7 linked regions of the Homo sapiens genome follow. The protein of the gene in region 5 purifies or fractionates together with the protein of the main gene of each other region. This does not show direct contact. Each region holds a gene or a part of one and is shown on either strand. Other genes may lie near its edges.

Region 1 (4,482 bases), on a different chromosome or scaffold from region 5:
AAGCAAAAAAATATTTTCTTGCAATACAAGTGTGTTCTGAGCATTAGATGGCAATATATCTACACCAGCCATCAATATATACATATACCAGCAAGCTCAAAGTGCTGACGCAGAGTAGCTCAAACAGATTTCCTATCCAAAGGCCCTCTGTAGGAACTCACGACATAACTCAGAAAGTGACAGTCTTACCAACTCCAAATCTTCACCTCTGCTTTTTCCATTCTAAGTGTCTAATACGAGAGTACTGGACAATCTTCCCTTGAATTTTCTTTAAAAAAAAAAAAAAAATAGGCCAGGCGCAGTGGCTCACACCTGTAATCCCAGCACTTTGGGAGGCCAAGATTGGTGGATCACCTGAGGTTGGGAGTTTGAGATCAGCCTGACCAACATGGAGAAACCCCATCTCTACTAAAAATACAAAATTAGCTGGGTGTGGTGGCGCATGCCTGTAATCCCAGCTACTCAGGAGGCTGAGGCAGGAGAATTGCTTGAACCTGGGAGGCGGAGGTTGCAGTAAGGTGAGACCGCGCCATTGTACTCCAGCCTGGGCAACAAGAGCGAAACTCTGTCTCAAAAACAAATAAATAAATAAAGCTCCACCAAGAGCCGTGTTGAAATGTGAGGTTCTAGAGAATCAAAGCCATGAAAAATGGGGACTCTCTGCCTTCTTACTTTCCATTTCATTTTTTTTTTTTTTTCTGAGATGGAGTCTTGCTCTGTCACCCAGGCTGGAGTGCAGTGGTGCAATCCCAGCTCACTGAAACCTCCACCTCCCAGGTTCAAGCAATTCTCCTGCCTCAGCCTCCCGAGAAGCTGGGATTACAGGCATGCACCACCATGCCCAGCTAATTTTTGTATTTTTAGTGGAGACAGGGGTTCACCATGTTGGCCACACTGCTCTCGAATTCCTGACCTCAGGAGATCCACCCTTCTCGGCCTCCCAAATGCTGGGATTGCAGGCATGAGCCACTGCGCCTGGCCTCCATTCCTTTTGAATCACTAAAAACAAACACACAATAACAATCTCAAAGAGCCTTGGGGTCTTCCATACCTTGAAGAACCTGTATTTGTTTAGTGGATTCCTCAACTTGATTTCGATAGGCTTTTCTTTCTTCTTCCAAAAGAGCTAAAAGTAAAAACACAGTATCTATTAATAGTTTTGTGAATTAATGAAAGTACTCAGAGTTGAGCAGCTGAAAATTTCTTTTAAAATTCTCTCCTAAAAGATTATTGAAAGAAACAAAAGTTAGGCAGTAAGTATTATCAGTATTAGCAGTTAGTTTAAAGATTTTAGGAGCACAGAACTGTAGTAAGTAATAAATCTATTCAACTGAGTAGTGGAGTTTTCTGGACCTGGTATCACCAAGACAATATGTGCTTTTCTTAACATGAGAAACAGTCTTGATAATTGTTAATCAGCATTTTGAACTTAATTTTTTAAAAAGACTTAAAATTCTTATATTTACTGTCAAGCACATAGTAAACACTAAACTAAATAATTGCTATTTACCAAATATTTTTTCATTGTAATTTAATATATTAGCCTGGATCCTCCAAAAGGTTCAAGTTAAGTGAATACCAATTCTAATTTCTTTGAGAATTAGGAAAGGAAAGAAGTAGTAACAAGAAGTTCCTAGTTCCCTCCTGGGATGTAAATCTTCCTACTAGGCAGGAAGGCCATCTTGGAGAACATGAGGGCTCCAGAAGTCATTCCCTTTCTCATTTTAAGACTCTTTGAGATACTAATTGTCTGCAACCAGGTAGTTACTATGAATGATACAGAAATGTAAGCTCTAGGGAACTGCACAGACTCCACTGGCTTATGACCTATAGATAAGTGAGCTACTAGAAAAGAATGTGGCCAGGACATTAGCTAACATTAGGCATAATAAAAATTTAGAAATTTGAGTTTTCCTTCTGTTGTACTTAATATGCAATTAACTATTAAGATCTTTCAGTTAGTAAAGATCTTACTTGATTTTCACATCAACAGTGTGAAGGTAGAGCAACTGTAACTCTCCTCATTTTACTGACCTGAAACACAAGTTTAGAGAGGTCAAGTAAATATACCAAGATCACATATCTCATAAAGTTGTGAATCTGGAACATGCCTCCGGACTCCAAGTTTGGGGCCACCCAATTATATTGTGCTGCCTCCACACATCCCTAAAGAACCAAAGTAATCTTGATCTCACCTTGAAGTTCAAAGCATTTTTGTTTACTTGTTCTAGCTAGCTCCTGGGCTTCGATCAATTCCTTTCGAAGATGCTGTATTTCTTGCTTTGCCTCAATTTCTGACTGTGCACCCTGCAAGTCATCTGACAAAAACATGTTTATTTTAAAAGCAAGAGTTAGTATCACACTATAATCTACAATAAAAGACTGGTAATCTCTCTCATGTTTGCACATGCATAAACAACATAGAACAACTGAGTTAAATAAAACTTAGAAGCAAATTATAGTAAGCATTTTAGTAGTTGGGAGAAAATACAAATACAGTTATATATATTAGTAATCATGGTGATGACATTATAAAAATATATTAACATAAATTATATATTCACAATTCTAGCATCAAAATAAACAGACAGTGACAGATTATAACTCATTGCTTATTAAGACTTGAAATTCAGTGAGATGAGCAAAATGCTATACTTCTTCATCAATTTTGAAATTTCTTGATAACCAGTCAGAAAAATTTCACTTGGAACTTAACTGGATATGGAAAACAAAAAGAAACTTTTCTTCAAGTAACAGCTAAATTTTAGCACAATTACCCTAGTTGTGGAACACAAAATAAAAACTAGGCTGAAAGCTCTACTGAGCCTACTTTGTCATCATCATTTCCCCAACACGCACATATAACAAATATCTGAGCTGGGCGTGGTGGCTCATGCCTGTAATCCCAGCACTTTGGGAGGCTGAGGCAGGCGGATCACGAGGTCAGGAGATCGAGACCATCCTGGCTAATACGGTGAAACCCCGTCTCTACTAAAAACACAAAAAATTAGCCAGGCGTGGTGGCAGGTGCCAGTAGTCCCAGCTACTTGGGAGGCTGAGGCAGGAGAACTGCTTGAACACAAGAGGCAGACGTTGCAGTGAGCCGAGATCGCGCCACTGCGCTCCAGCCTGGGCAACAGAGTGAGACTCTGTATCAAAAAGAAAAAAAAAAACCGCAACAACAACAAAAATCTGCTGAATATATTAAATGATGTAACCTAAGTGGTTTTACCGAAATAAATTAAATCCAGCATTCTATTTCAAATATGCCCCTTCCCCTAAACTCCTTCCTCTCCAATCATTCTGCTTTTTAATTTTTTAAAACCTTCTGCTACTGAACACTGCCTGAAATAAATATATCATCAGGTAAGCCATATTGTTCTAATGAATTCTATTTGAGTATCACCTTGGTTTATAAGTACCTCAGCATAATAACTTCAATTCATCAAAAAAGAGCTAAGAATAACTTTCACAATACAATTACAATAGGTTTTGGAAATTATATATATATATATATATATATATATTTTTTTTTCATATTCATAGATTATATCCTATTTTTCTCTCTAGAAAAATTGTATTCTGGCCTAGGCGCGGTGGTTCATGCCTGTAATCCTAGCACTCTGGGAGGCTGAGGCAGGCAGATCACTTGAGGTCAGGAGTTTGAGACCAGCCTGGGCAACATGTGGAAACCCCGTCTCTACTAAAAATACTAAAAATTAGCTGGGCGTGGTGGTGCGCGCCTGTAATCCCAGCTACTCAGGAGGCTGAGGCACGAGAATTGCTTGAACCTGGGAGGCAGAGGTGGCAATGAGCCAAGATCGCGCCACTGCACTCCAGCCTGGGCGACAGAGAGTGACTGTGTCTCTAAAAAAAAAAAAAAAAAAAAAAGAAAAAAAAAGAAAAAAATTTGATTCTGGGTTCAGCTACTCTAGTCAACTTATCAATTCTTCCTTCAAAAGGTCTTTGGGCCAGGGAAGGGGCATGTAGAGAGAGAGATTTTTCCAGTGGCAGAAACACTGTTGCATTAGCTACAAAACTTCTCTCACAGCTCTTTCAACACTATCCACTGGAGTCTGCAAAGGTCCTGGCCCCTGTTTCTGGATTTGTCATTATATAGGATAATGCTCTTTTTTTTTTTTTTTTTTTTTAAGGAGTATTTAGAAGAGAAGCATCATGATGCTTGCATCTTACATTCAAGTGGTTTGACAAAAACATCGACATTAATTCCTTGAGTAGGTATTTTCCTTGCTCTGTGATCGAGTTTTTCAACCTCAGCACTACTGACATTTTGGGCTGAATAAATTCTTTGCTGTGGGGCTACCCTATGAATTGTAGGATGTTTGGTAGTTTTCCTGGTCAGATATTGCCAAATGTCCCCTGGGAGGTAAAATGTCCTGTGTTGAGGACTATTGCTGTATGTTAATAATTTGATAATCAAAAAAAATTTTATACACAGGTTTCTTTTCTACAAAAGCACTG
Region 2 (4,482 bases), on a different chromosome or scaffold from region 5:
AAGGCAAAAGCGTTAAACCTAAAGGAGGGACTTCTAAATAATAGACTTTATACCTACAATAAAAATATAACTGACATATCCCAACTCCATACTAATAATGAAATGCATAAAAATTGTAGGATATATAAGGCAAAGAGTCAAGAGACAAATATGAAGCATTAACTTTTCTCTATGCTCTTAATAAAGCAAGAGCACAAAAATAAACAAGATGTAGAACAGTGTTTTTCAAACATTTTTGACTGAAACCCACTGTGAGAGACATATTTCAGATTATGATACTAAGCACACAGATTGTTAGATTTGCAAGTGTAACTGAAAGAAAATGTGAGCAGCTCTTACTATAAGCAATACACTTTGATAATTTTCTATTTGTTCTACTCCATTAAAAATTGTAGTTATACATATTTAGTCAGGACCCAAGAAATTGATTTTATGACACAATAAATGTTTATGATCCAGTTTGAAAAACAAAGATATAATAAAACTCATCTATTATTCGACATATAATTAAATCTGTACTTAGATTATGTTTTCTTTCCAAGCACCCTTGAATTTTTACAGAAATTAAATATTAGGCCACAAAGAAAATCTGAGTTAATTTCCCCCAAAGAAGAAATACTACAGACCACATTCTCTGGTCACAAAACAGTGAAATTAGAAGTAAATGTTAACAAAAATATGCAAGCAAAATTTCTGCCAGTTGGAAATTTTTTAAAAAGAGACAAAACCTCATAAAAATGGCTTCTAAACAACTTTCAGGTCAAAGAGAAAACAACAACAACAAAAACACATCAAAATCTAGGATACATCATATATATGACACTATAAAAATTAAAATAATCTGGTAAATTAAGATTAGAGGAACAGATTAACAGACCCAAAGATGCAAACAAACATGGGAATTTTAGACTATAATGATGACATTTTAATGTAAGAAAAAGGATTTTTCAATAAATGAAAAACTGACTAGTAACTGGTGAATAATGAACAAAGGAGAAAACGATATCACCCTTTCTTTAGTCCCTATAATGAAATAAAATTCAGAGGAGATTTAAAGTTAAAAATCAACACGAAACCCAAAGTGAGATACAAACTCATGTCCATTATGTTGGCTATTATCAAAAACACAGGAAATAACAAGGTTGGAGAGGATGTGGAGAAACTGGAACCCACCACACTGTTGGCAGAAATGTAAAATGGTGGAGCACCTATGGAAAACGGTATGGAGGTTCCGCAAAAAATTAAAAATAGAATTACTATATGATCCAGCAATACCACTTCTGGGTATACAACCAAAAGAACTGAAAGCAGGGTTTCAAAGAGAATATTTACACATTCATGTTTACTGCAATACAATTCAAACAGCCAAGATGTGGAGGCAATCCAAGTGCCCATTGATGGATGAATGGATAAACAAAATGTGTATATACACACAGTGAAATATTATTCAGTCTTAAAAAGGAAGGAAATTCTGATATATGCTACAACATGGATGGATCCTGGGGATGTTATGCTAAGTGATGATTCCACTTTAATGAGATACTTAGAATAGTCAAATTCATAAAAAGACAACGTAAACGGTAGTTGCCGGGGGCTGGGGGAATCAGAAATGAGGAGTAGTTGTTCAATGCATAAAGAGTTTCAGTTTCACAAGATGAAAAGAGTGCTGGAGAATAGTTGCATGACAATGTATATGTATTGAACTGAATGTACTGAACTGTACACTTAAAAATGGTTGAGATGGTAAATTTTCTTATGTGTATTTTATCATAATTTTTAAAATTAACAGACATACTAGAGGAAAATATGAATGAGTATATTTATAGTGTGGTAATGCGGAATGCAGAAGACTTAGAGGAAAGGATGAACAAGGTGACCACATAAAAATCTAAAATTTTTCTATGGCAAACAACAAAGGGGGTGCTATGGTCTGTTTGTGCCCCACTCCCCAAAACGGTATGTTGAAATCTTAACCATTATGGTAATGGTATTAGGAGGTGACATTTGCTGGAGGGAGGAAGGGGTATTAGGTGATGGGGGCAGAGCACTCATGAATGGGATTAGTGCCCTTATAAAAGAGGCCCAAGAGACCCCTCACTCATTCAGCCACATGGGGTTAAAAGATTGTGGTCTAGGAATAGGGCCCTGAGATACCTAATCTTGCAGCACCTTGATTTTGGACTTCCCAGCCTCCAGAATTGCCAAGAGTAGATTTCTATTGCTTATAAGCTACCCGGTTCATGGTAGTTACAGCAGTTCTAACAGACTAAGACACGTGGAATTTAAGATATACTTACAAATAATTTATCGGAGAGACATGTATTAGAAAAACAGAAAAGCATAAAGAAACACAAAAAATCCAAATGGCTAGTAAATTTATGAAAACATACTTAAACTAAAAAATAAAGAAAAAGCAACAATAACATACTTTTGCCTATTAGCTTATTAAAGATAATAAAGGTCTGCAATATTTTAGACAGGTATGAAAAAGCAGACATCAAAACCAAGATGTAGTCTGATACAAACTAGTGAAATTTGTGTGTAGGGTGAAGTGACAATGACTAAAATAATATTTCTATCCCCCTCCTCCCCCCCACCCCCCTTTTTGGGACAGAATCTCACTCTGTTGCCCAGGCTGGAATGTAGTGTAGTGATCACAGCTTACCATAACCTCAAACTCCTGGGCTCAATCAATTCTTCTGTCTCAACCTCCCAAGTGGCTAGGACTACAGGTGCACACCACCACACCTGACTAATTTTTTCATTTTTTGTAGAGACAGGGTCTCACTACATTGCCCAAGCTGGTCTTGAACTCCTGGTCTCAAGCAATCCTCCTGCCTCGGCCTCCCAAAGTGCTGCGACTCTACAGGCATGAGCCACTGTGCCCAGCCAAATACATGCACATTTAAAATGCACTTAAGATTCCTACTTACTTTTGAGTACTTATTGTACTTTCTGTTACAACAATTCAGCACTAACCCTTTAACTAAGTATTGCTTTTCAATTAACATTAACAGACATTAAGAAACCACAATGACTATCTACAGGTTTAACGATGGCTCACATTTTGGCCACAGACACCTACAAAAAGACTGAGTATTGCGCAATGGTCACGGAATTATGAAGCTAAAATGATACATTCAGTATCATCATTCAAAGGATAATAACCATTTTAATGTGGGCAAGGAATACAGAAAACTAAGCAAAGCCAGGAGAAGACTGTAAGACCCAAACAGTTGACTTTTTACTCAAGATCATACAATCTGTATGTGGCAGAGCAATACTCTCAGGAAATCTTTCTGACGACTGGTATAGTTTTAAAAATGTCTCTCACTTATCAACAAGTGCTACTTTCAATATGACAACCACCTTGAAAAGGCAACCACTCTAGAGGACTAAATCTATTTCAGCAAAAAAAAAAAAATTCATCAAACATATACTAAAACTTTCCTCCATTCCGCCAATGCCAAAATAATCTATGAACCCATCTATTTTTATCTCCTTCAATTATCCCCCCCAGGGAAAATATGTCTTTATTCTTTTGCACAGTTAAACAGTCCAACTGTTCTTCAGTTCTCATCACTTGATGCCTCTCTTCAGATACCTCCCTCCCTCAGTCCTTCCCTCTCCACTAGCTTCTTGTCCTTGGTTAACAAACGCTTGGCCAGGTGCGGTGGCTCATGCCTGTAATCCCAGCACTTTAGGAGGCCGAGGCGGGCAGATCTCAAGTCAGGAGATTGAGACCATCCTGGCTAATACGGTGAAACCGGGTCTCTACTAAAAATACAAAAAAAAAAAATTAGCCCGGCGTGGTGGCGGGCACCTGTAGTCCCAGCTACTCAGGAGGCTGAAGCAGAAGAATGGCATGAACCCGAGAGCAGAGATTGCAGTGAGTTGAGATTGCGCCACTGCACTCCAGCCTGGGTGACAGAGTGAAACTGTCTCAAAAAAAAAAAAAAAAACAAAAGAACGCTCAATTTTCAATAATCCTGAAACATATTTTCTTGACATTACTTCCCAATCAGGTTACCTATTTCTCTCTTTCCTTTCCTGAATGAATAATCTCTATCTCATCACCATTCTACTGAAACTGTTAAAGGTTAGTAGTTACTTTTAATTCCAAGGAAACTGGTCACTGATCAGTCCCCACTCAACTTGACTTCTCTACAGGATTTGTTACTAGACAACTAAATACCAAACTAGGTATTTAGGTATCCAGGACACTATCATTTTCTATGACTATTCTAGTCATCCTTCAAATTTTTCATTGGTTTTCCTGCCCATTGTCAAATGATGTTTTTTATTGTACACCCTGCTTAGGACATTGATGAGTCCCAAGTTCTAGGGTTTAGACCACTCTCTGAGCTCTAATATTCAACCATCTACTACCTTGGTACTAAAATAGGATGGGTAATGCAAACACAACATAATTTTTAGTATCTTTCTCCTAAACTCACCTCTTAATTCAGTCCATGGTGTCAA
Region 3 (4,482 bases), on a different chromosome or scaffold from region 5:
GAATCTTTGGTTGGTGTCTGTCTGTGTGATGTTTTCAACCAATAGCCAAATAATTATTGAACTTACATGAAAAAGAGTGCTAAGTATAATTTTATTTAGATTACTTTATTCTTTGAAAGTGACTACAAGGCTATTAAGTACATAATCATTCATTTTATTTACTCAGAAGTTGCCTCTCCATTACTGTTAACTTGTTTAGTAATTTATATAATTGCAGTACTTTTAAGTGTTGGACACTGGGATTCAGGTTGTATACAAAGTAGTAGCTGACGAAAAATATGTATATTTTTGTGAAATGTATCAAGCCCTAAAGTTCATTTTAGAGAAAGGCCCAGAAAAACGTATCTGTGTTTAAAAACAAAGGACAGGTCATTCGTCAATTTGAATCATTTTTACTTTTGCCACTACAAACTTTTTAATTGGCAATATCCATCATCCAACTGGATCTTCATGTCAGTGTCAGGGATGCCAGGTTGACAAAGTATTTAACAGATCCTTTCAGTTTTTGTTTTGTTTTTTTAATTCTAAAAAAAACAAATGTTAGGCCAAACAGATCCCTAGATCCCACTCATTGATTCTGGCGGTATTCCTAAAGTGGTGCTTAGGGGGTCAGAATTTTCTGGATCTTTGCTAATCCAAGCTTTAGATTTAATTTAACCAGGACCACATGCTTGTCATCTCTCTGATGCAAATTTTCAAAATCATTTTAATTTAGATTCTAATGTCTGCCTGGGTTTTTAACAGGCTGTGAACCAGTGAGTGCCTTGTTAATGTAGAATGATTTTTCCCCCCTGGGTGGGTGTTAGTTAGCTCCTCTCTGAAAATGTCTCAGAGAATGGTATTTTAATTGACTTGTAGAGAGCTGCTAAATTTGTTATTATCAGCAATCAGAAAGTCTTTGGTCTACCACACATCTCCCTCCCTACTATCTCTTCATTGTTTGGCTGAAGTTTGCCTCTTGTGAGAAAACAATACAACTCCCCTTCTCCACACACTTTTTTTCCAGCCCAGATTAATAGGTATCCCCTACCCTAATCCCAACTCTATGATCTAATACCTTTTTTAGGAGGAACCACTTCTTTTTAATATTGAAATCTGCTGGTTACTTTATGTTTTCTCAAGTTCAGTTGACTAGAGCTGACCACAGGGTGTCATCAATTCAGATTCCTAAATAACCCTTTCTCTCCACACCCAGTCCTCCAGCTGGTGAGCCCTGGGCCAGATTGTTTGATCTTCAGGTATTTTAAATTTTAGTTACATCAATTAATGTAAATTAATCCAAATGCTAATTTTTGTGGTGCAAGAAGTTTCTTATGTAAATTCAGGGTATGGATAAGCTAATTAAGATATCCATCTTTGGTGGCTCTAAGTGTATTATTTGTTTTTAAATAAAGTGTACAAATATAGATAACATGCTATAGGTGTCTCATGAATTGGAATATTTGTCAGATTTGGGATCTAGCTGTGGCTTTACAGTAATCAGTTAAATTAACATAGTCTGATTTGGGGCTTTTGGGGGAGGAGTTGTAGAGGGGTGCAGAGAAATAAAAGGATATTAGACAAAGTATACATGAGTCCAAAATTAATGAACCAGTCTTAATTACTGATTGTGAGGAAGGAGAAGTTTATAGAGAATTTGGGCCTCTGAAAAGCCAAATTAAAATAGCTTCTAGGATTGGGTCAGTGGTACTTTCAGAGACACATATGTTTAATGAATAGGTTTTATGTTTTTCAAATGTTCAGTTTAAATGGCTTTTAAAATTTATACACATATATAAATACAATGTTTTTATTTTTTGTTTCGCTACTTAACAGACATACACAAGCCTTCCACACTCCCTGCCCCTTCAAATCAACATTATTTTTCAAGGCCTTTGGCCTGCCCAGAACTCACAGTCTTTTTGTTCCAATCAGGATCCACAATACAATATGAAATTTAAAAGGCATCTCTTCTGATATCCTTGAAACTATCCACCATTGTTTGGTGTTCTGTATGCTGGTATACTAATGAGTATTATATCCTTTGGTATGTACACACATTTTCAGTAGTGTTGGAAACACCTCTTTTATCTTTTTAATGAGAACTGAGACATGATTAGCTTGAGTAATTTTGGAGATCTATCTCAGGAGGTCATTAAAACTCCAAAAATTATTCACGGATTGATGAACCTCCTGGGGTCAGCCTAAGATTGCCAGGTAGTATTCTGACCTCCTCTGGGTTTCCCAAGATCACTGATGTTTTGCAGGGCCCCAGCATTGTCCTGGCACATAAAATATTCCCAGAACACCTTGGGAGTCAAGCATACCTTTTAACCTAAACATTATAATCATGGAGCATCCCTCCGCCTGTTACTTCTCAGGATGACCAGAACACTCCAGTTCTCTAAGGAAGCACTGACATACGGCTCTGAAAATTGGAATCCGTTTTCTGAAACACAAATTTTAACTCAGTAAGTTTTGTATATCAAATGATTCAAAACCCACCAAACATAAAATGACTCGCTTCTAAGTATCACTCAAACCCTACAAAACCTAACCCTTTCCTTATTCCTAATTGATATTTCACTAAAGGTAATGGTAGTTTCAGTTAGATTGGAAGTCATTATTTGGGTGAGCAAAGTCTGCAATAACCTACTGATAGGAAGGACCTATTTCATAGAAAAGTATCTTGTCCTTGGTGATTTAGCCATTCACCTTACGTGAAGAGTGGTCCAGATGCCAGCTCCACATTGACTTTTTCTGTGTCCCTCTTTAGGTAATTAACCCAGTGATGTAAAGGAGAGCCCACAGTAAAACATCTGTTAAACAGCACTTGGAGTACTATAGTGTTATTAATTTATGTGCTATAATTTCTTATGCCATCATAAAATCTAGTGTATGTACCAGGTTCCCAATTCATTGCCTCAAACAAAAGATTTTTAAAAATTCTAATAGCATCAAATTAAGGGTAATGGTAGGGAAACCCATCATCCACAATTAAATATGCCCAAACTGAAAACTTTAAGAAAAAAAAGCACATGGAAAGCAACGTTTTACATTAATCGTGAGTTGTAGAAATAAACAGCTTGTGGTTTGTATATGTGCCGAAATGTTAAAGTATGCTGGCATCCAACTACTTCCCTTTGGAAATGGGACCAAGACAATAATTTTTCATGCATAAACAAAATTAACTTAGAGCAAAAGTAATTTTATCAGAAACAGTTTATTTTGGGGGCTGGATAACTTGGGTGAGAGTGTGGGGAAAGAAGTACCTTACCAAAAAGGAGAAGCAACTGACCCTGTGGCCTGAGCCACATTGTCTTCCATTTCAACTTCAATGGGCTGGCAGTATACCACTTCTGACCTCAAAGAATGAATGGTTCCAATTCTGGCTTGTCATTGGTCCTTGTTATCTAAATTAAATATTTTTAGGAAATATATCAAAAGTATCCTAGAGCCCCATGGCAAAGTGTCAGAGGAAATAGTTTTCATTATATTTTAGGAAGCTGTAAAAATATAAGCCCAAGTATTTTGTGTCATCTGCATATGTCAGGATGAAGACCAGGCATGTAAGAAATATCCTAAAGTAGCCAAGTGATAATCTCATGAAAAAATATGAGAATCGTTTTTACAGAGTGAGTTCTCTTTTGAATGGTTTTGACTATGCTTTTAAAAACATTTTTAAAATGTACTTACATCTTTTTCGATAGCCCACGTATTTCAGAATATCCTCTTGATAGAATAATATCACTCAGTGTGATTTTTAGAAAAAGAAAAACTCGGTGGTCTCATATCTTTTGACAGTTGTTTGTGAATAATACCCTCCCCAACAACCTTCCCAGTACTCAACTGCTATGTAAGAATGCTTTCTTATGTGGTAAATGTCTCAGTATTTTGCTGCCTGGTATTTGTTCAGTTTCCTTGTATATCTCAGGGTCAGAAGGAATCAGGCTTTCTCCCAACTCTGAAACATTCAGACTTACTTTCTTTTTGGTCAGCCTTTTAACAAGCAAGACAATAAACTCCTTTTGTCAGAATCGATTTGATTAAAAAAAAAAAAAAAGAATGTGCTCCTTATTTCTCATTGCTGTAGAATACGTAGGAATACACATCTACTAATCACAATTAAAAAATAAGAGAATCTTTAGAAACATCATTGCTTTCTGGAGGTAGAAATTTTGAACTTGAAGGTTGTAGTTCCAGGCAATTTTGTGCCCTTGAGGTGTCCAATTGATAGTATAGCTTGCCTCTGCTAATAAATACACAAAAGTTTTCTTTCCTGTGATTTTCAGAAATTATTTTTGGAATACAAAGATTAATAAGGAATATGTGATGTTTATCTCCTGCATTTCAAAATCTTCTGGATTTTTTTTGAGGCATGAGGAGCAGGTAATGAGATTTTTTTTCTGAATATCTTGATTCTCTCCCTTAACCCAGATTTTGCATATTATGCATTGCTCATTTGTCACCTACAAAAATAAAGGTTAATGATTATTTGTTTGC
Region 4 (4,482 bases), on a different chromosome or scaffold from region 5:
TAGAACCTTTTTTCCAAGGACCATCACATGATGGCCTAGTGTTCTGTGATCCTCCCTCTGGTGTTAGCCAACCCCTGCCTCCTCCCTCAGCCGGCCATCACTGCCATACTCCGGGGCCACAGCCACCCAGGAGCTGGGCTCAGGGCTGGTGGCCCAGGCAGGCAGAAGATCAGGTCAAGGTCCAGGTCCTTCTCAAAGTAGAACATGATCTCAATCTGGACTCTCACATGAAAGACAAGTACAGGGCACAGGGCAGAAGAGCTCTGAAGAATCTCACTCTATCGCCCTGAGACATTTGCCAGCATTCTGCGTGCCCAATCACTGGCGAAAAGGGATGTCTCTATACCTGGCACAGGTTCAGCTGTTGCTGGCAAGCTGTCTACAAACTAACCCTCCTCATCCTGGGTGTCTCAATCACAGCTGGAGAGTGGGGCTTTGGGGAAATGTCCAGGGTGGCCCCATTCATTTTACAGAGGAGGAAATGACTTTCCCCAATTCACTCAGGAGTTTGCTCAGTGGTAGAGTCTACACTAGAATCCAGGCCAACAGGACCAAGCCATCTCCCCAACCAGTGAAACTCTTTAATCTCGTAGTTTCCTTTTTTTGGGTCAAAAATACCTACATTTAACCTGTAGAGCTGGGCCAACAACAACCAACCTGACAAGAGGAAAATGTTTGCCCTTCTCCATCTATCTTCTGCCCCACCTGCTTCATTCACAGAATGATACTCACGGCATCTCCTCAGGCAAGACGTCCGCTAGGATGTTGATTGAGTCTGTTTTGGCTTTTGAGGTGGGTGCTGCAGCCAACAGGATCTTCAGGAGGGCAATCTGGGAAGAGTAGACCATTCAGACACAGGTCTGAGAGCCCAGGGTCAAAATTAAGCTCTGAGCAGTCCTCCTGTTGGTCTGCAGGTGGCAGGAGGACGGCAGGGCCTGCTCTAAGGCCAGTGTAGTGGGAGTGTCCCACTGCAGGCACCACTCACCATATACTGAGGCAGGCTGGGGAGCAAGCCTTGGTAGAGGGTTTCTGCAGGGACTTGCTCAACTTCTTCTTCTCCCTTTTAACATAATGAGTACAAGCATAAAACCCCAGCCCAGAATACAATCTCCTGAGCCAGCTTCCTAGCTGGCTGGAGGAAAACCTGTAAACAGTGATGTACATAATGATGTTAATGATGATAACAGCAAACCCTGAACACAAACAATGTGCCAAGCATTTTACTTGTAATAACTCAGTTCATCCTTATTATTATAACCCTATAAAGGTATTATTATTCCTATTTCACAGACAAGGAAATAAAGCATAGAGAGACCCAGTAACTTGCCTAAGTTGCCATCCATAAAGTGGTGGACCCAGGCATCAGAGGCAGGTTCCTGACTCAGTCTGTATTCTTAACCCTGCACTAGACGTGTCTCAGCCTGTGCACTGGGAGGTGGACTGGGAGCTCTTTGAGGGCAGGGCCTGGGGCAACCTTGTGGTCTAATCCCAGCACAATGCCTGGGAAGAGCTGGGGATCCCGGGGGCTGAAGAGGACCTCTAACTTTTTTTTTTGAGATGGTCTCGCTCTGTCGCCCAGGCTGGAGTGCAGTGGCGCTATCTCGGCTCACTACAAGCTCCGCCTCCCGGGTTCACGTCATTCTTCTGCCTCAGCCTCCTGAATAGCTGGGACTACAGGCGCCCGCCACCACGGCTGGCTAATTTTTTTTTTTTTAGTAGAGACGGGGTTTCACCATGTTAGCCAGGATGGTCTCAATCTCCTGACCTCATGATCTGCCCTCCTCGGCCTCCCAAAGTGCTGGGATTACAGGCGTGAGCCACCGCGCCCGGACTGAGGACCTCCAACTTACCCCTGAGAGAGGGGAGCGGAGGTATTCCTCCTCCATCTGTGCCTGGACCTCTGCAATCGACGTGTACTTGTGCTGGTGGGAGAGATGGGAAAAGAAGGGCTGGGGAAAACATTCTCTGGCCAAACTCCCTGCACTCTAGCAAAATCCCCACACATTTGTCTTCAAACACAGTCTTCTGAAAGAGGATTAAGTCACCACAAAAATCCCTAGCTAAAATCCCAAACCCCAGATATTTTTTATTTTTATTTTTTTGAGATGAAGTCTTCCTCTGTTGCCCAGACTGGAGTGCAGTGGCATGATCTTGGCTCACTGCCACCTCCGCCTCCCAGGTTCAAGCAATTTTCCTGCTCCAGCCTCCCAAGTAGCTGGGACTACAGGTGTGCACCACCACACCTGGCTAATTTTTGTATTTTTAGTAGAGATGGGATTTTGCCATGTTGGTGAGGCTGGTCTTGAACTCCTGACCTTAGGTGATCCACCCACCTTGGCCTCTCAAAGTGCTGGGATTATAGGCGTGAGCCACCATGCCTGGCCCCAAAATATTTTTCTAAAAGGGCCCCTTCCTCTTGCAACTACAGTAAGAAGCCCATGGTAGATAAGAAAAAAGTAAATTAAAGGAGGGAAATGGCCTTTCAGATAGCTACAGCAACAGGAGAAAAACTGAAAGCAAAATCAAGTACTCAAAAAGCCTAGCTGCAGAGAGACCACTTAGTACTACAAATTCCAAAAATATATTTCAAAAACATAAAAACAGTTTCACTCCAGATAGCTGTTAGGGGAGATGCCTCTTCCCCACTCTTAATGTTCTCTCCCGTGTGGAGGGACAGGGGTTTGCGAAACACCCCTCATCTCTCTCTGCCCCGTCCACACACTCACTCCTCCCTTCTCTGATCGGAGAGTATGGGAGGGGACACAGGGCGGACTTGTCCTCACCCTTCTCTTTTCTCTTTAGAACCTGTCTGCCTGCTGAGAGTCTGCTCTCTTCTCCTCCCCGCCACCAAGCTTGGCAGAGCCTCCCCACACTGCCTGGGACTGGTAGGTAACTCTGCCTAATTCTGGAACAACGTATTAGGACACTACTGCTGTGTTCTTAAGCCTCATTCTCCATGGCTCTATGAGCTATAAAGTTGGCATTACAATCTCCATCTGCCTACTCCTCTATTTCAACCGCCTGAGAACGTGGGCAAGGAAAAGGAGGGCTATTTATTGAGCTCTTTAGAATTTCAACAACTGTCAAGTAATATAATCCTTTTTTTTTTTTTTTTTTTTTTTAAAGAATCCGGGTCTCACTCTGTGGCCCAGGCTAGAGTGCAGGACCATGATCATAGCTCACTGTAGCCTTGATCTCCTGTGCTCAAACAATCCTCCTGCATCAACCTCTTGAGTAGCTGGGACTACAGGTGCATGCCTTGGTGCCCGGTGGTCAGGTAATATAATCTTTAAAGACTTCCCAGTCAGTCCCAAACAAAAGCTCAGCTAAAACAAGTAAAACTTATAATAAAACAAGCAAAACTTACGAAAGACTGTTTGCAAGGTTATTGCAAAGTCCACCCCGGCCTCTACCCCAGGTTCTTGCAGGCAGACAACAGTCTTAAAAGGCTTCTCCCTACAGGCTGGTTTCACTCTACTCACTTAGGACCAAACAAGCCAAAAGCTCACCCAAAGCCACTCACCTGTTTCAGAGTCTTGATGCTTTCGTGGATTGGCCTGGGCAGCCCCACCACTGTGTTCGTGTCACTGGAGAATAAAGAAGGCCCTGTGTTGAGCCTCGACATCAAATCACCTGGGATCCCAAACACCAAAGGCCGGGAGAGCTAACAGCAAAATGAACTCGGCTTTTACTCACCTGCCTAGAGTGTAACCTATAAATTTGCTGCGGCTGGACTCAAGGAACATCTCAATGTCTTTCTCTCTGCCACATCACCAAAAAAGAGAGAAAGAAAAAAGGTTTTTAGCAAATGCTATTTCAAAGTGTTACAGTTAACAAAAACACAGCATCCAGAAACTGTGAAGCCAGGAGAAGTCTCCTATAATTGTTTTTCTCTTTGAAAAAAGGGAAAAAACTGAAATTTTCAGAGAATTTTAATGTTTCTTATAATTTTGCTGGATCAGTAACCTGGAAATACATGTTAACTAGTTTATTCATAAAATTAAAGGGATATATCAAACTTAAAAACATGCTTTATTCAGATAGTATGAACAAGTTTGTCAACAGACTTTCTTAAATATTAAAACTTTTAAACAATTAAAGCTATAGGCTACTGATTTTTCATATAGCTCACTTTTCCTATCCCAAACAATCAGCATACCTTGCATTTTCTGATGATCTGTTTTGCATTCCCTTCACAGATCACTGAAAACTGAGGCTTTACCTGGATCAAGAAAGCGACTTCTATATCCTCTCACATGTTCATCTATTTCTTAAGCTGCTGCCTATCAAACAGACACCATTTATATATCTCCAGGTACCGTCCCATCCATCGATTTACCCACATATATCTCAAACATTTTCATTATGGCTCTAAAGAAACTCTTCCTTAATCTATCATTTTTGTTAAAAACCATACACAACCCCAGGATGGGTGGAGACATGTTTGCTTAAATGCTTTTGTTTTTATTTGTTTCCTATCCC
Region 5 (4,482 bases):
CCTTGATCTTGGACTTCTCAGCCTCCAGAAGCATAAGAAAATAAACTCTCGTTGTTTAAACCACCCAATCCATGACATTTTATTATGGCAGCCAAGGAGATAAAAGACAGGCACAAATCCCACTGTTGGGCTACAACTGCCATGGAGGGTAGTGCTATCTGTCTACACAACACCCACTGCCCATGACCTCCGTCTATGGAAGCCAACGTTGTTCAGGCACACAACACTTTGACAGCCATGGGACACGGCAAAGGTGTGCTGCTTCCTCCAGAAGGCATTTTCTTTCTTTCTTTCTTTCTTTTTTTGAAACAGAGTCTCACTCTGTTGCCCAGGCTGGAGTGCAGTGCTCGGCTCACTGCAACCTCTGCCTCCCAGGTTCAAGGGATTCTCGTGCCTCAGCCACCCGAGTAGCAGGGATTACAGGCATGCAAAACCATGCCTGGCTAGTTTTTGTATTTTTAATAGAGACTGGGATTCACAATATTGGTCAGGCTGGTCTCGAGTGCCTGGCCTCAAGTGATCCTCCTGCCTCAGTCTCCCAAGGTGCTACTGCACCCGGCCCCAGGAGGCATTTTCTAACAAATCTAAATCATTGCTTCTCAAACACCTCGTGCTTTCAGAACCACTTGGGGATGCGTGATTCCAACCTCAAACCAAATGAAACAAAATTTCTTCGTGTGAGACCTGGGCATCAGTACTTCCAAAATGTGCCCCCCAAAATTCTGGTGCCCAGATGGGGCTGCAAACCACTGGCTGAGGCTGGACATGGTGGCTCATGCTGTAATCCCAGCACTATAGGAGGCCGAGGCAGGAGGATCACTTGAGGCCAGGAGTTCTAAACCAGCCTGGCCAACATGGTGAAACCCCGTCTCTACCAAAAATATAAAAAATTAGCCAGGTATGGTGGTGTGCACCTATGGTCCTAGCTACTCAAGGGGATGAGGTTGGGAGGATTGCTTGAGCCTAGGAAGCAGAGGCTGCAGTGAGCTGAGATCATGGCACTGCACTTCAGCCTGAATGACAGAGCAAGACTCCATCTCAAAAAAAAAGGAAAAGAAAAACCAGTGGTTGAAATAAATTGGTAATGCAAGAGTCTTCATTAGGCAGGTGACCAAAGCTGGATTCTCATTGTGAAAAGAAAGCATTTATTCCAAGGTGGGAGGATGGATTGAACATGGGGGCCTGCTGCCCCAGTCAAGGCTGCAGCACCCAGCATCCCTATGAGGAGCCAGCCTGAGGACAATCAGAAGCCTGAACCAAGAAGAAGGAACAGAGAACCAAGACATCCTTGATGGCGTCACTGGGCTGCGGCACCGAACAAGCCTGGAGCCAACCACACCTCAGGCTTCTCATCAGGCGAGTTAGTGAATTTCCTTCCAGGTGAAGCCAGTTTGATCTGGTTTTCTGTTATATGCAGCCAAATGCTTTCCACTAGATGTGGTGAGTAAAAGACAGGAGGATTCTGTATAGAAGACCAATGACTGAGGTACAAGGATCCACAGAAACATCGACTGGCAGATTCTGAACCATAGCCCAGGATTCCTTCAGACATGTCACAGTAAGGTCCACCAATGTGTGCTACATGCCTGGCTTTGAGTTCTGGGACAGGGCTGTGGGAAAGGTGAATCAGATGATCCTTTGGCTCTCCCAAGAGCTGAGCTCCCTGTCACTTTTCACACGCTGGTTCCTCCACCTGGAACACTGTTACCCTCTTCCACCTCCTTCTATCCAGCTAACTCCTACTCAGCTTTCAGGTCTCAGCTCCACTGTCACTTCCTGAGATGCCCTCTTTGGAACTCCCACAATAGGTTATGACATCCTGCTTATTTATTCCTAAATTCCCCTCATTTTTCTTTCTAGAACTTATTTCAGTTGTCATCTATGGATTGATGTCCACCTTCCCAACTGAACTCAGAGTGTGCCATCAATTCTAATAACTTCTTTATCCTGACCCACTTTTGTTAAATATTGTATTCTAAAAGGGAACCTTGTTTTGCTCTGGTAAGTGAGAAAGTCAATTTCCCTTCCTACAAATAGAAGTCTGCAATCACAACACAACAAAATCAAAACAATGCCACTAAGTCCCAGGAAACCCTTGTATGTTTCTTAGGGCTAAGTTGGAGGTTGTCCCCTCTGTTAAAAAAAAGAAATGAACTGCACTGGGGGAGTGAAAGGAAAATGAAAGACTCAGCGCTGATCTGAGACTTTTCTTTTTTTTTGAGCCGGAGTCTTGCTCAGTCACCCAGGCTAGAATGCACTGGCGCAATGTTGGCTCACTGCAACCTCCGCCTCCCAGGTTCAAGCGATTCTCCTGCTTCAAACTCCTGAGTAGCTGGGATTACAGGCGCGCACCACTGCGCCCAGCTAATTTTTGTATTTTTAGTACAGACGGGGTTTCACCATCTTGGCCAGGTTGGTATTGAACTCCTGACCTCGTGATCCACCCGCCTCGGCCTCCCAAAGTGCTGGGATTACAGGCGTGAGCCACCACACCCAGCTGATGAGACTTTTATGACAAGAATTAGCGTGCTGGACAGAGAAAGTAAAAGGAATGGCTTTATCAGGGTATCAAACCATGCCATTTGAGGACATTCCTGTGTACCCTCTAAAAACACCTCCTGGATCAACAGAGCATGGATATCAAGCATCAGAAAACAACTAATGACCATGCAGGCACCCAGATGCCTTTTTACAGAGATTGTATTGCTTAGGAAGATATCCGAGGGGCACTGAGGACAAATGTCTTCTGGGGGGCTGCCTGACTCACCCCTTTCTCTAAGAACAGCCCATCACCCATGGCCCCTGCTTAATAGGGCTGTGGCCACAGCTGACCCCACCAGGATGGCCAATCAGCTTCCTTCTTATGCAATCTTGATTAAGGACCTCAGAATGGGCTGAGCACTGGAGTGAGGGTTTGTGTTAAAAGGACATTTTCTACCCCGACAATCTCTGATGCAGACAAAGGGAGACCAGTCAGGAAGAGGTGGGAACAGAAAGGTCTGTCAAGAGAAAGGTGGGCAGTTCCAGTGACCTTTTTGCCTGGCCAAGAATCAGGGTTAGGGTCCTCCTCAGGGATGAGAGGTGAGTCATTACCTAGTGAAACCAGAAGCCCACAGGTCTCCAGCATCACCTCTCGGTACAGGGTCCTCTGGGCCAGGTCCAGCTGTCTCCACTCCTCCCGGGTAAAGGTCACAGCCACATCCTTGAAGGTCACCAACATCTGGAAAGTCAAACAGAAGTAATGCTATTGGCCTTGTGTTGTCGCATAGGATCAGAACCTGTCACTCAGTCTCTAGTCAATGTGCAGAGAGATCCAGGTCTGAATCAACTAGGTCTCCTTTGGGCTGACTTCCGTGCAGGGCTCAAAGGGGAGGCAGATACTGCCTTTTGACAATGCAATTGTGCCTGAGAGAAAAGCCTTCTATGGGGAAGCTGTTGAAGATGACACAAACAATGGCAATCCCACGAGGACTATGGGAAGCAGAGAGTAAGTACTCTGGCATATTAAAAGAATGGAGGAAAATGACTGATACTAATCCAACCACAATAACAGCAACAGCAGCAGCTAAGTGTGGGGGAAAGAAAAATAGATCAGACCGTTACTGTGTCTATGTAGAAAAAGGAAGACATAAGAAACTCCATTTTGATCTGTACTAAGAAAAATTCTTCTGCCTTGAGATGCTGTTAATCTGTAACCCTAGCCCCAACCCTGTGCTCACAGAAACATGTGCTGTATTGACTCAAGGTTTAATGGAGTTAGGGCTGTGCAGGATGTGCCTTGGTAAACATGTGTTTGCAGGCAGTATGCTTGGTAAAAGTCATCGCCATTCTCCCGTCTCGGGTACCCAGGGACACAATGCACTGCGGAAGGCCACAGGGACCTCTGCCCGAGAAAGCCTGGGTATTGTCCAAGGTTTCCCCCCACTGAGACAGCCTGAGATGTGGCCTCGTGGGAAGGGAAAGACCTTACCTTCCCTCAGCCCGACACCCATAAAGGGTCTGTGCTGACGAGGATTCATGAAAGAGGAAGGCCTCTTTGCAGTTGAGATAAGAGGAAGGCATCTGTCTCCTGCTTGTCCCTGGGAATGGAATGTCTTGGTGTAAAACCCGAGCGTACATTCTATTTACTGAGATAGGAGAAAGCCGCCTTATGGCTGGAGGTAAGACATGCTGGCGGCAATACTGCTCTTTACTGCACTGAGATGTTTGGGTAAAGTCAAACATAAATCTGGCCTACGTGCACATCGAGGCACAGCACCTTTCCTTAAACTTATTTATGACACAGAGTCCTTTGCTCACATGTTTTCCTGCTGACCCTCTCCCCACTCATTACCCTATAGTCCTGCCACATCCCCCTCATGGAGATGGTAGAGATAGTGATCAATAAATACTGAGAGAACTCAGAGACTGGTGCTGGTGTGGGTCCTCCATATGCTGAGTGCCAGTCCCCTGGGCCCACTTTTCTTCCTCTATACTTTGTCT
Region 6 (4,482 bases), about 11 Mb from region 5:
AATGCCAGCTTCTACTTCTTTCATCATTTTTATTCTCCCTGTCCATTGTTCGCAACTTCGAAATGGGCCCAGTTCCTTACGGGAGGTAGGATCCCTTGGAGACCCCAGATCAACTAGAAATGTCTGTGGATTGGCCAGGCACAGTGGCTCACGCCTGTAATCCCAGCCCTTTGGGAGGCTGAGGTGGGCAGATGACTTGAGGTCAGGAGTTCAAGACCAGCCTGGCCAACATGGTGAAACCCCATCTCTACTAAAAATACAAAAAACTTAGCCAGGCATGGTGGTACACACCTGTAGTCCCAGCTACTCGGGAGGCTGAGGCAGGAGAATCGCTTGAACCTGGGAAGTGGAGATTGCAGTGGGCCAAGATCGTGCCACTGCACTCCAGCCTGGGCGACAGAGCCAGACTTCGTCTCAAAAAAAAAAAGAAATACATGTCACCAGTTACCTTATAGAAAAGAAAACTCATCTGTCCGCTTCAAGAATGGGAAATTTTTTTCCTTTTTAACACTTTTTACCAACACATATGTATATAAACATCCAAGGCCAGACAGGGAAACTACTTATATGACATCAGCATCTCTGAAGCATGAGTTTCTGTCCTTTGTGTATCTTCTCAGTCCCCCAAATCTACTCTCTGAATCACTGGAGAAGGTGTGAGGAGAGGCAGACCGACCACCGAAGACAAGTCCTGACTTTCCTCCTCACTCTCCTCCCTTCCCTCCTGGGGTTTGGTGATTGATCCCTCAACCTCCCAGGGGCAGTTCAGCCTGCCGGGAACCTACACCTTGGTCAATACCTGCCACTGTTTGGTGACTGCCCACACACATCAGGTGCCCCAGTAAGGCGCTGGGGAATAACAGAGGAGCCATGTGGTTCCTGCACCCACAGGGCTCAGTCCCATGCAGGAGACAGGCATGAGCAGCAACTCACATGCAATGTGACTAGGACCCCATTGCGGGAGCGAAGGACGCTATGGGAAGAGGGACAAGAGGCGACAATTCAGCTAAGGCCTGAAGCTGAAGAGAAGTTAGCCAGGGGAGGGAAGGGCCCTGCTGGCAGAGGACGGAGACAAGAGCTGCATGGTGGGCTTAAGGAACTCTAAAAAAGGCCAGGATGGCTGCTTCAGAACCTGTAAAAGGCTCAGTGAAGCCATGGAAGGGTTTTAAGTACAGAGAGGTAACCGATTCGCATGTTATAAAGGCAGCTCCAGCTAAAACATGGAGAACTGACTGGAGGGAGTTCTGGAGGGAGACTAGAGGGAGGGAGCAGGAGAGCGGCAGAGCTGGACACAGAGACCCCCATCACAGATGAGGGCAGTCCCAGAAATCCCAGGACAGAACGGTAGTGGCTTGGACTAGGCCGGGGCAGTGGACACAGTAGTGGTCTATCTGTGGGGGCAGGAGGTGGAGTTGGGCATCCCAACCAGACCTGTCACTGGCTGGGTTCCCCCTTCATCCCTCTGCTGCCTCATCGAGCTGTGGTCTCCCTCCTCCTAATGAGGATGTGAGGGTCTCAGCTGCCCACTCTGCTTTGCTGTCCCTTTCCCAGTGCCTCTGGAAAGAGAACCAGAAAGACATGGTTGGAGCATCTCAGGGAGGTGGAAACCCACCAAAAACGGGAAGCGTCAGTGGCCAGTCTCTCCCTCGCTGCAAACGCCAGCAGCCCCCACGGGCTGTCTGGTCTGCGAGGGCCAAGGTAGGCCTGAGGGTCGGTCGGGGATCTGGAAGTGCCGCTCACCATATCCACCCACTGCCACTCCCTCTAGCCAGAGCCGCAGAGCATGCGCTCCCAAAACCTTCTGATACCTGGCAGCTACTGCCTCTCCGCCCCTCCAGCTATTCCCAGCAAGGCGACATCTAAAGGCTTCGGAGGAGTCCCAGCAATTCAGTCCTCCCAGGAGCTGATGCCTCTCTGAATTCGCTGCTTCCTGTCCCAGCTAGCTGGGAAGAGTCCCCGTTTCGTGCCATCTAGCCCTGCATCTCCTAAGGGCCTCCTTCCCAAGCTTCAGCAGCTGCTGGCAGGAATGGGCCCCCAGGAAGCTGAAGTGGGCAGGGGCAGCTCCGCACATTCTCTGCTGGCACCGCACTCACTGCAGGTCCCTGTCGCTGCTCCTATACAAATCTCCAGTTCAGATCCCTCATTAAAAGGTCCCTCCCATCCTCAAAAAGCTTCCCCTCTCAGAGTTGCCACAGAACAGGGGCAGAGCCACACAATCAACTGTGCATGAACATCTACAGCTCTGCGGTCCCCTGCACAAACAAGCTTCCTCTGCCAGCCTGGAAGTTTCGGATGGGCAGAAACCACGTTACTTACTTCTCAGAATCCCCCACCTAGCAAATGCCTGCTCATTATCAGACTGCAGCTCCGCCACCTTCCTGCTCCAAACTTATGGTGACTACTGGCAGGACCTCCCTGGGGGCTGCCTTCTCTGCCATTCAACACACAGGTACCAAGCAGGGTCGCACGGCAGGTCTTCTGCTAGGAGCAGCTGTATTAAGCTCTTCAGAGAAAAGTTATTCAGAGTCCATCAGGAAAATCTGACACTGCCTAGCTCTTAAGGGATCTCACAGGGGAAGTCACACCGTCTGTTAGCACTAAGTGTTCAAGTAAAGGTGTGTAAAAGAGGTGCCGCTGATGGGAGAGTAAACTGGTGGGTCAATGTGGCAGAGTCATTCACTGTTTCTTTTTTTATTTTTATTTTTTTTGAGATGGCATCTCGCTCTGTCACCAAGGCTGGAGTGCAGTGGTGTGATCTCGGCTCACTGCAACTTCTGCTTCCCGGGTACAAGCGATTCTCCTGCCTCAGCCTCCCGAGTAGCTGGGACTACAGGCGCCCACCACCACGCCCGACTAATTTCTGTATTTTTAGTAGAGGTGGGGTTTCACCATATCGGCCACGCTGGTCTTGAACTCCAGACCTTGTGATCCACCTGCCTTGGCCTCTCAAAGTGCTGGGATTACAGGCGCGAGCCACCGCGCCCAGCCCAATCACTGTTTCATAAACACATCCATTCTACTATTCCACTCATCTGTTCTGCTTCATTCTTGCACAGGAATAAGGGGTTCTCACTGCAGCCATGTCTGATGGGGGAAAAACTAGAAAAAATCTAAAAGTCCACCAACCAGGGTCAAACTCAATCAGCTATGGTGCAAACATCCCGTGGGACGCTATGCAGCTATCAAAAAGAAAGAGTTCTCTGTGCTGATATGAAAGGAAAACCAAAACAGATTATTATGTCACAAAATGATACATACAGCAGTAGTTCATCTATTACATAAGCACAATAACTCTTCTCTCTCAGGAGAGAAGAGCAGGAAAGGGACGAAGAGAAGGAACTTTCCTTTTTCACTTACATATATATGTGTATACACACACTCACACACACACACACACCCCTCTGAGATGTCTGAATTTTTACTAACTTAACAGAATAAAAGAAAACAAAAGTACAAAGTGACAGTGCTGGTACCATGCCAGACACAAGTTCCTCTCAAACTCCAAGAAGGGTCAGTAAGTGAGGGGATAAACATCTTTTCTCTCATCAGCCTCCAGGATGAGAAGATGGTGTGGTGGGTGCTGTGCGGTGCACTGGTGCAAAGTCCCAGAGGCCAAGATTCAGTCCAAGCTCTGCTATGACTGCTTGGGTGACCCTGGGGAGGCCACTATGCTTGCCTGAACCAATTTTCTCAACTGTACTGGGTAGCAGAGAGGTACAGAACATGGGCTTAAAAGTCTACCGACGGTCGGGCATGGTGGCTTATGCCTGTAATCCCAGCACTTTGGGAGGCCGAGGCAGGTGGATCTCTTGAGGCCAGGAGTTCGAAACCAGCCTGACCAACGTGGCAAAACCCCATCTCTACTAAAAATACAAAAATCAGCCAGGCGTGGTGGTGGTGCACACCTGTAATCCCAGCTACTTGCGAGGCTGAGGCAGGAGAATCGCTTGAACCTGGGAGGCAGTGGTTGCAATGAGCCAAGATCATGCCACTGCACTCCACCCTGGGTGACAGAGTGAGACTCTGTCTCAAAAAAATAAAAATAAAAATAAATAAATAAATAAATAAATAAACAAAAGGTCCACCACAGACCAGCCCTTCTGCTCATCTGCTGGGATCCTAGATAAATCACCCTCTCAAAACCTCCATTTCCTCTCCTGATTTTTTTTAAAGGTAGGGGGAATATCCTTTATCCTCCCAGAATGCTGCAAGAATTAAATGACAGCTCGTATCTACAGTACTTGATACAGCGCCCCAGACATGGTATGTGCTCACTAAATTGCAGCTGGTACCGTTATTGCTGAGTGAGGTAATGACACTGCCTCTGCCTACATCACAGGGCATTGTGAAGATCTGATGAGATGTATGCTGGGAAAGAGCTTCGGAAGTAGAGAGTGGGACAGAAGTGAGAGCAGTTACATAAGGATTCTGCTCCCATCCCAGCCCCAAGCCTCAGCCACCACAAGTGAGGGCAGGGGGAGA
Region 7 (4,482 bases), on a different chromosome or scaffold from region 5:
TGTGGGGAGTTCTCCCCTTTTTCTAATTCAAGCTCACCTTGTAGAAATCAAATCTGAGAAATACTGTTATGGTTCTGTAGCAAGAAAGAAGACAGCGAAGTGAAATATTACATATGTAACTATATATTTTCTTACGAACTTCAGGCACTAGGACAAGAAGCAGATGAACATGTATAGCCAGTATTGGGCCACCATGCCCGTCCCACCTAGACTCATACCTTGTCTCATCCACTCGACCTCGTCCTCGGTGACAAAGCTGCACAAGGCTTTTGCCATTGCCAGTCGTATTGCTCCAGCCTGCGCTGACCTCCCGCCCCCTGAGACTGTGCAGGTCACGTCGTGCTTTCCCAGCCGGTCAACAAAGTGGAAAGGGAACATCAGCTGTTCTCTAAAGCACAGCACAAGTAAATGTGGTTACGTTTACTATAAAGATACATAATTATGTAAACAACTGAAATTCTGAATATTCATAAAAACAATATTCTGCATGCCACTGTTATACTTTTCATACTTCTCAATCAATCCATTTTACCAAGATATAGAAACACTAACATTTCTGACATTTTGAATGATTTGCTGAGAGATTAAGATTTATTTCTTTTGCTTGGGTATAGCAACACACTCTTACTGTTTGCTGATCCCCTTTATCTCAGAAGATCTTTTCAAAGCTTGAAAATAATCTCGTAAAGAAGTCTTACAGTTGGGGAACTCCATTAATCAACTGAATTTAATGTCTCTGGATTGAATGATCAGATATAAAATCAATAGGCCTTTCCAAACAATTATCACATGTCATTTGGATTCACTAAATAAAGTCTACTATAAGTGTATCTGTATAATGTATAATGCTCATCTTGATATGGTTAGTTTTTAAAGTTTCTAAAACTATTTTCGACCTTGCACTTCCCTGACACCAAACACCTATTCCCAATATTCTTAAAGTTCTCTAAATCATAGGGTCCTGCTACCTTCCTGGGGCCAGGTGACATTCTACACAACCCCTGTCAGGCCTGCTCTTTCAGGGTCGGTCAGGGCCTACAAGATCCTGGGGCAGGCACCACAGACAAAACACGGCCCTGGACTTTCTCCTGCTCAACTGAACAAGTATTTGTTGAATATCATTTTCACGCCAGGTAAGATGTTCACCATTACCTCTGTCAAGCACTTTGATTTTGCTATTTTGCCTTAATATCTTGCTACACTTTTATGCAGAAAAGCTCACTTATATTGCGTTTGCTTTCTTTGATGCTGTAGCTTCTAGACCCAAAATCAAGTTTATATAACACAGTTAAGCTGAGAGACAGGTATGGACAGGACATTCAAGTGCTATTCTTCATACCACACTAGTAAAATAATCACAAGCAGATGGGCAAAAGATGACTTTCAAAAGCCATAGCAAATCGGAATTTATAACAATACGATGTAGGGATGACATAACTCCTACAACAACAAAAAACTCATAAATCTATACTGTCTTTTTGAACAAATGCTTCCAAGAAACCAAATGAAAAGTAGCCATAAGTTATAAAAACAGTATTATAAGTAGTATCTATTAATATACTATGATAACTAAAGAAAATTTAAGCTGAGCACCTAAAGTACAAGCTACTCAGGAGGCTGAGGTGGGAGGACTGCTTGAGCCCAGCAGCTTGAGTCCAGTCTGGGTCCAGAAGTTTGAGTCCAGCCTGGGTGACATAAAGAGACCTTGTCTCTTAAAAAAAAAAAGTAAATATAAAAGAAAATTTAGGCTGGGCGCAGTGGCTCATGCCTGTAATCCCAGCACTTTGGGAGGCCGAGGCGGGCAGATCACCTGAGGTCGGGAGTTTGAGACCAGTCTGACCAACATGGAGAAACGCCGTCTCTACTAAAAATACAAAACTAGCCAGGCATGGTGGTGCATGCCTGTAATCCCAGCTACTCAGGAGGCTGAGGCAGGAGAATTGCTTGAACCCAGGAGGCGGAGGTTGTGGTGAGCCAAGATTGCACCACTGTACTCCAGCCTGGGCAACAAGAGCGAAACTCCATCTCAAAAAAAAAAAAAAAAGAAAAAAAAAATGTACAGACTGAAAATCTAATTCCACTATTGCATTTACCTCGACCATCTGGCTCCATGACTCAGTTATATATCCAGTAATTACATTATGAAATCTATTTTTCTAGATTTTAATTGAAGTCTCTTTTTATTTATATAAGCATTTGTTAAAGAATCATAAAATTTTAAAAATTAAGCCAGGAAAGTGTTTAAGCTCCCAAACAAATGGCTGTCCAGAAGCCTCCCTTGTAACTTCACTTACGTGGCTAACCCACTTCACTGTGTGTTAGGTGATGACAGAATTCCGATCAAGATCCCTGATTCTGGGTTGGTTAGTCTTCCTATTAGTCAATGGTCACCTCACTGCTGATTTGTAAGTTCCTGAAGTGACTGCCCTAAATCCTTACAACTACTTTAAAATAGTTGTAGGTGCCCATTCCCACCAAGACTAGGCTTAGGCTTCCCAACCATGTAGGAAGTTTCTTGACAATAGGAATCATATCTTAAATATCTCTGATATCTTCACAATGCCCAGAACAAGACTGGAGACATAGATGTCCTTAGTAAAAAGCTGCTGAATTCAAACCAAAGAATAAGATCTAAAGATGTAATTTCATTATGAGATCAAGCCAGAATTGAGACTTGCTGTTAAATCATCAGGAGTTATGTCTGAATACAAATCAACAGACAGGTTATTGGTTAAAGAACAGTCCTCCTATAGTTCCCAATGTTGAAGTTATCAAACCCTGGGGTATGGGTTTCTCTCTGGCTTTTCCTAAGGGAAATAAAAGCTTCTTCCATCCCCTGTCCTGTGAGGATAATAGCAGAACTAATTCATCTTAAATGGAGTTAAGAATGCACTGCTTGTTGACACAGGCACACACAAATAAAATAAACACACATTTCCTAAAATAATTATTGTGTCCAGAAGCTTACACTGTATTAGGAGGGTCCTCTTTTGCCTATATCAGCATTGGTATCAAAAGAGTTTTAGCCCTTTTGACCTTAAATACCGTAACACATGCAGGAAACAGGAGAAGGATTAGGAAAGGAGGAACTAATCATACCAAACTTCTGTTACTCGTGGATAATGACAGTAAGTACTGGGAAAATAATAACCATATCAAGAAGAGGCCTTTATATAGCAAGTCAGAGAGAGTTCTGAGATGAGTATATTTAGATTAGAAGAGCTGTAGTATCTATTTATGATTAATGTCTATTTCTCCATAGGATACAAAGTTTAAAAATTAAAACTGCCATATTTAGCACCCAGAACTAAGCAAAGCCTGATGAGTTCTTATTTTAACCCATAAATGCTAGGTTTCTTTGCTTGCTCAATATATATAATCACATTCCTCTGAATAGGAAAAAATCCAAAATGATAAAGCAGAATTTTTCTAATATTTATGATCAGAAAAACATACACAAGCCACAAGAAATTACTTGCACTTTTCTTTGCCTTGTGAGTTAGGTCAGTTTTAAGTGCCAAGGCTGGTTGTTGTGGTGGTGGTTTTGTTTTGTGCACGCCCATCCCCAAACTAGAAGGTGGAAATCTAAATCAAAATTTTTTACATTTTGGCACAGTCTGCACTTCAGAACATAAGCTACATCTAAGACTACTCAAACTGCAGTAGGATCTGATGAAAAGGGGAAGAAGAGTCAATTAATGAGGAATTCTAGAGATGCTTTTTAAAAAATCTGGAAGCTGCTTTAAAAAATAGCTTCAATTAGCTAGTTTGATATGTTACATTGGTAAAGAGAAATAATCATTCAGATAAACAGAATTAGAAGATCACAAGCCTTCTTAAATGATCATGATGTATTATAAAGTATGTTTCCTTTAAAAACAAAAAATCAGAACCCAAAACGAACCTGTCCTGTGTGATCGGGAAGTAAAGCTGGTAATCAATTCCATTTACTTTTATTCTTCCACTTCCATGTTTATAAACAATTGCTTCTGCTTTTGCAGTCTTTCTTTTACCTTCAAAAATATAAAATTCCTATTAGTAAATATCTTGAAGACCTGCGCTTTGAGACAGGTAAAACTACATTAAAATTTGTTTCCCCAAAATAATACACAACACTGTACATAAGCAAGTCCTATAACTATTATTTCAAGTCAAACAAAAATAAAGCAGGTAAACTACAGCACAACAGATGCAATAAAGCTCATTGTGGGGTAATTTTGTTCTTCAATTCCATTTTAGAAACACTACAATGATTTTAAATTAGTTTGAACAACCAACAAAGTAATTTATATTCATTTCCCTTACGAGAATCCACAACCAATTTACATAGCATTCTTCTTTTATAAACAGTAAGAATATATCTAACAACATAAGTTTTAGAAATATATAAATAGTATGATGAAATATAACTAGTAGAAATAAAAAAATACTCAGGAAAGGTCACATTTCTTTGAAAACACCACAGTAGTTAAAAATGACAAT

Evidence for each region.
Region 1: the proteins of ZNF550 (region 5) and SLMAP purify together in Homo sapiens (affinity purification with mass spectrometry; 2 studies listed by BioGRID and IntAct, with this or other methods). This does not show direct contact.
Region 2: the proteins of ZNF550 (region 5) and SMARCAD1 purify together in Homo sapiens (affinity purification with mass spectrometry; 2 studies listed by BioGRID and IntAct, with this or other methods). This does not show direct contact.
Region 3: the proteins of ZNF550 (region 5) and STRN purify together in Homo sapiens (affinity purification with mass spectrometry; 2 studies listed by BioGRID and IntAct, with this or other methods). This does not show direct contact.
Region 4: the proteins of ZNF550 (region 5) and STRIP1 purify together in Homo sapiens (affinity purification with mass spectrometry; 2 studies listed by BioGRID and IntAct, with this or other methods). This does not show direct contact.
Region 6: the proteins of ZNF550 (region 5) and STRN4 purify together in Homo sapiens (affinity purification with mass spectrometry; 2 studies listed by BioGRID and IntAct, with this or other methods). This does not show direct contact.
Region 7: the proteins of ZNF550 (region 5) and MRPS9 purify together in Homo sapiens (affinity purification with mass spectrometry; 2 studies listed by BioGRID and IntAct, with this or other methods). This does not show direct contact.

Annotation. Positions count from the first base shown.
Region 1 is NC_000003.12:57,905,720-57,910,201, reverse strand, and holds part of SLMAP (sarcolemmal membrane-associated protein), read right to left. Parts: exon of another isoform or gene 4,460-4,482; intron 4,236-4,459; exon of another isoform or gene 4,155-4,235; intron 2,319-4,154; coding exon 2,196-2,318; intron 1,148-2,195; coding exon of another isoform or gene 1,127-1,147; coding exon 1,052-1,126; intron 1-1,051. UniProt on the Homo sapiens protein: Associates with the striatin-interacting phosphatase and kinase (STRIPAK) core complex, forming the extended (SIKE1:SLMAP)STRIPAK complex.
Region 2 is NC_000004.12:94,213,746-94,218,227, reverse strand, and holds part of SMARCAD1 (SWI/SNF-related matrix-associated actin-dependent regulator of chromatin subfamily A containing DEAD/H box 1), read right to left. Parts: exon of another isoform or gene 4,458-4,482; intron 1-4,457. UniProt on the Homo sapiens protein: DNA helicase that possesses intrinsic ATP-dependent nucleosome-remodeling activity and is both required for DNA repair and heterochromatin organization.
Region 3 is NC_000002.12:36,840,725-36,845,206, reverse strand, and holds part of STRN (striatin), read left to right. Parts: 3' UTR 1-4,482. UniProt on the Homo sapiens protein: Calmodulin-binding scaffolding protein which is the center of the striatin-interacting phosphatase and kinase (STRIPAK) complexes.
Region 4 is NC_000001.11:110,044,120-110,048,601, reverse strand, and holds part of STRIP1 (striatin-interacting protein 1), read right to left. Parts: intron 4,284-4,482; coding exon of another isoform or gene 4,265-4,283; exon of another isoform or gene 3,915-4,264; intron 3,763-3,914; coding exon 3,697-3,762; intron 3,588-3,696; coding exon 3,524-3,587; intron 1,923-3,523; coding exon 1,851-1,922; intron 1,061-1,850; coding exon 986-1,060; intron 831-985; coding exon 733-830; intron 1-732. UniProt on the Homo sapiens protein: Plays a role in the regulation of cell morphology and cytoskeletal organization. Required in the cortical actin filament dynamics and cell shape. Part of the striatin-interacting phosphatase and kinase (STRIPAK) complexes.
Region 5 is NC_000019.10:57,553,138-57,557,619, forward strand, and holds part of ZNF550 (zinc finger protein 550), read right to left. Parts: intron 3,221-4,482; coding exon 3,094-3,220; intron 1-3,093. UniProt on the Homo sapiens protein: May be involved in transcriptional regulation.
Region 6 is NC_000019.10:46,739,873-46,744,354, forward strand, and holds part of STRN4 (striatin-4), read right to left. Parts: intron 1-4,482. UniProt on the Homo sapiens protein: Calmodulin-binding scaffolding protein which is the center of the striatin-interacting phosphatase and kinase (STRIPAK) complexes.
Region 7 is NC_000002.12:105,093,061-105,097,542, reverse strand, and holds part of MRPS9 (small ribosomal subunit protein uS9m), read right to left. Parts: intron 4,014-4,482; coding exon 3,905-4,013; intron 492-3,904; exon of another isoform or gene 389-491; coding exon 219-388; exon of another isoform or gene 145-218; intron 1-144.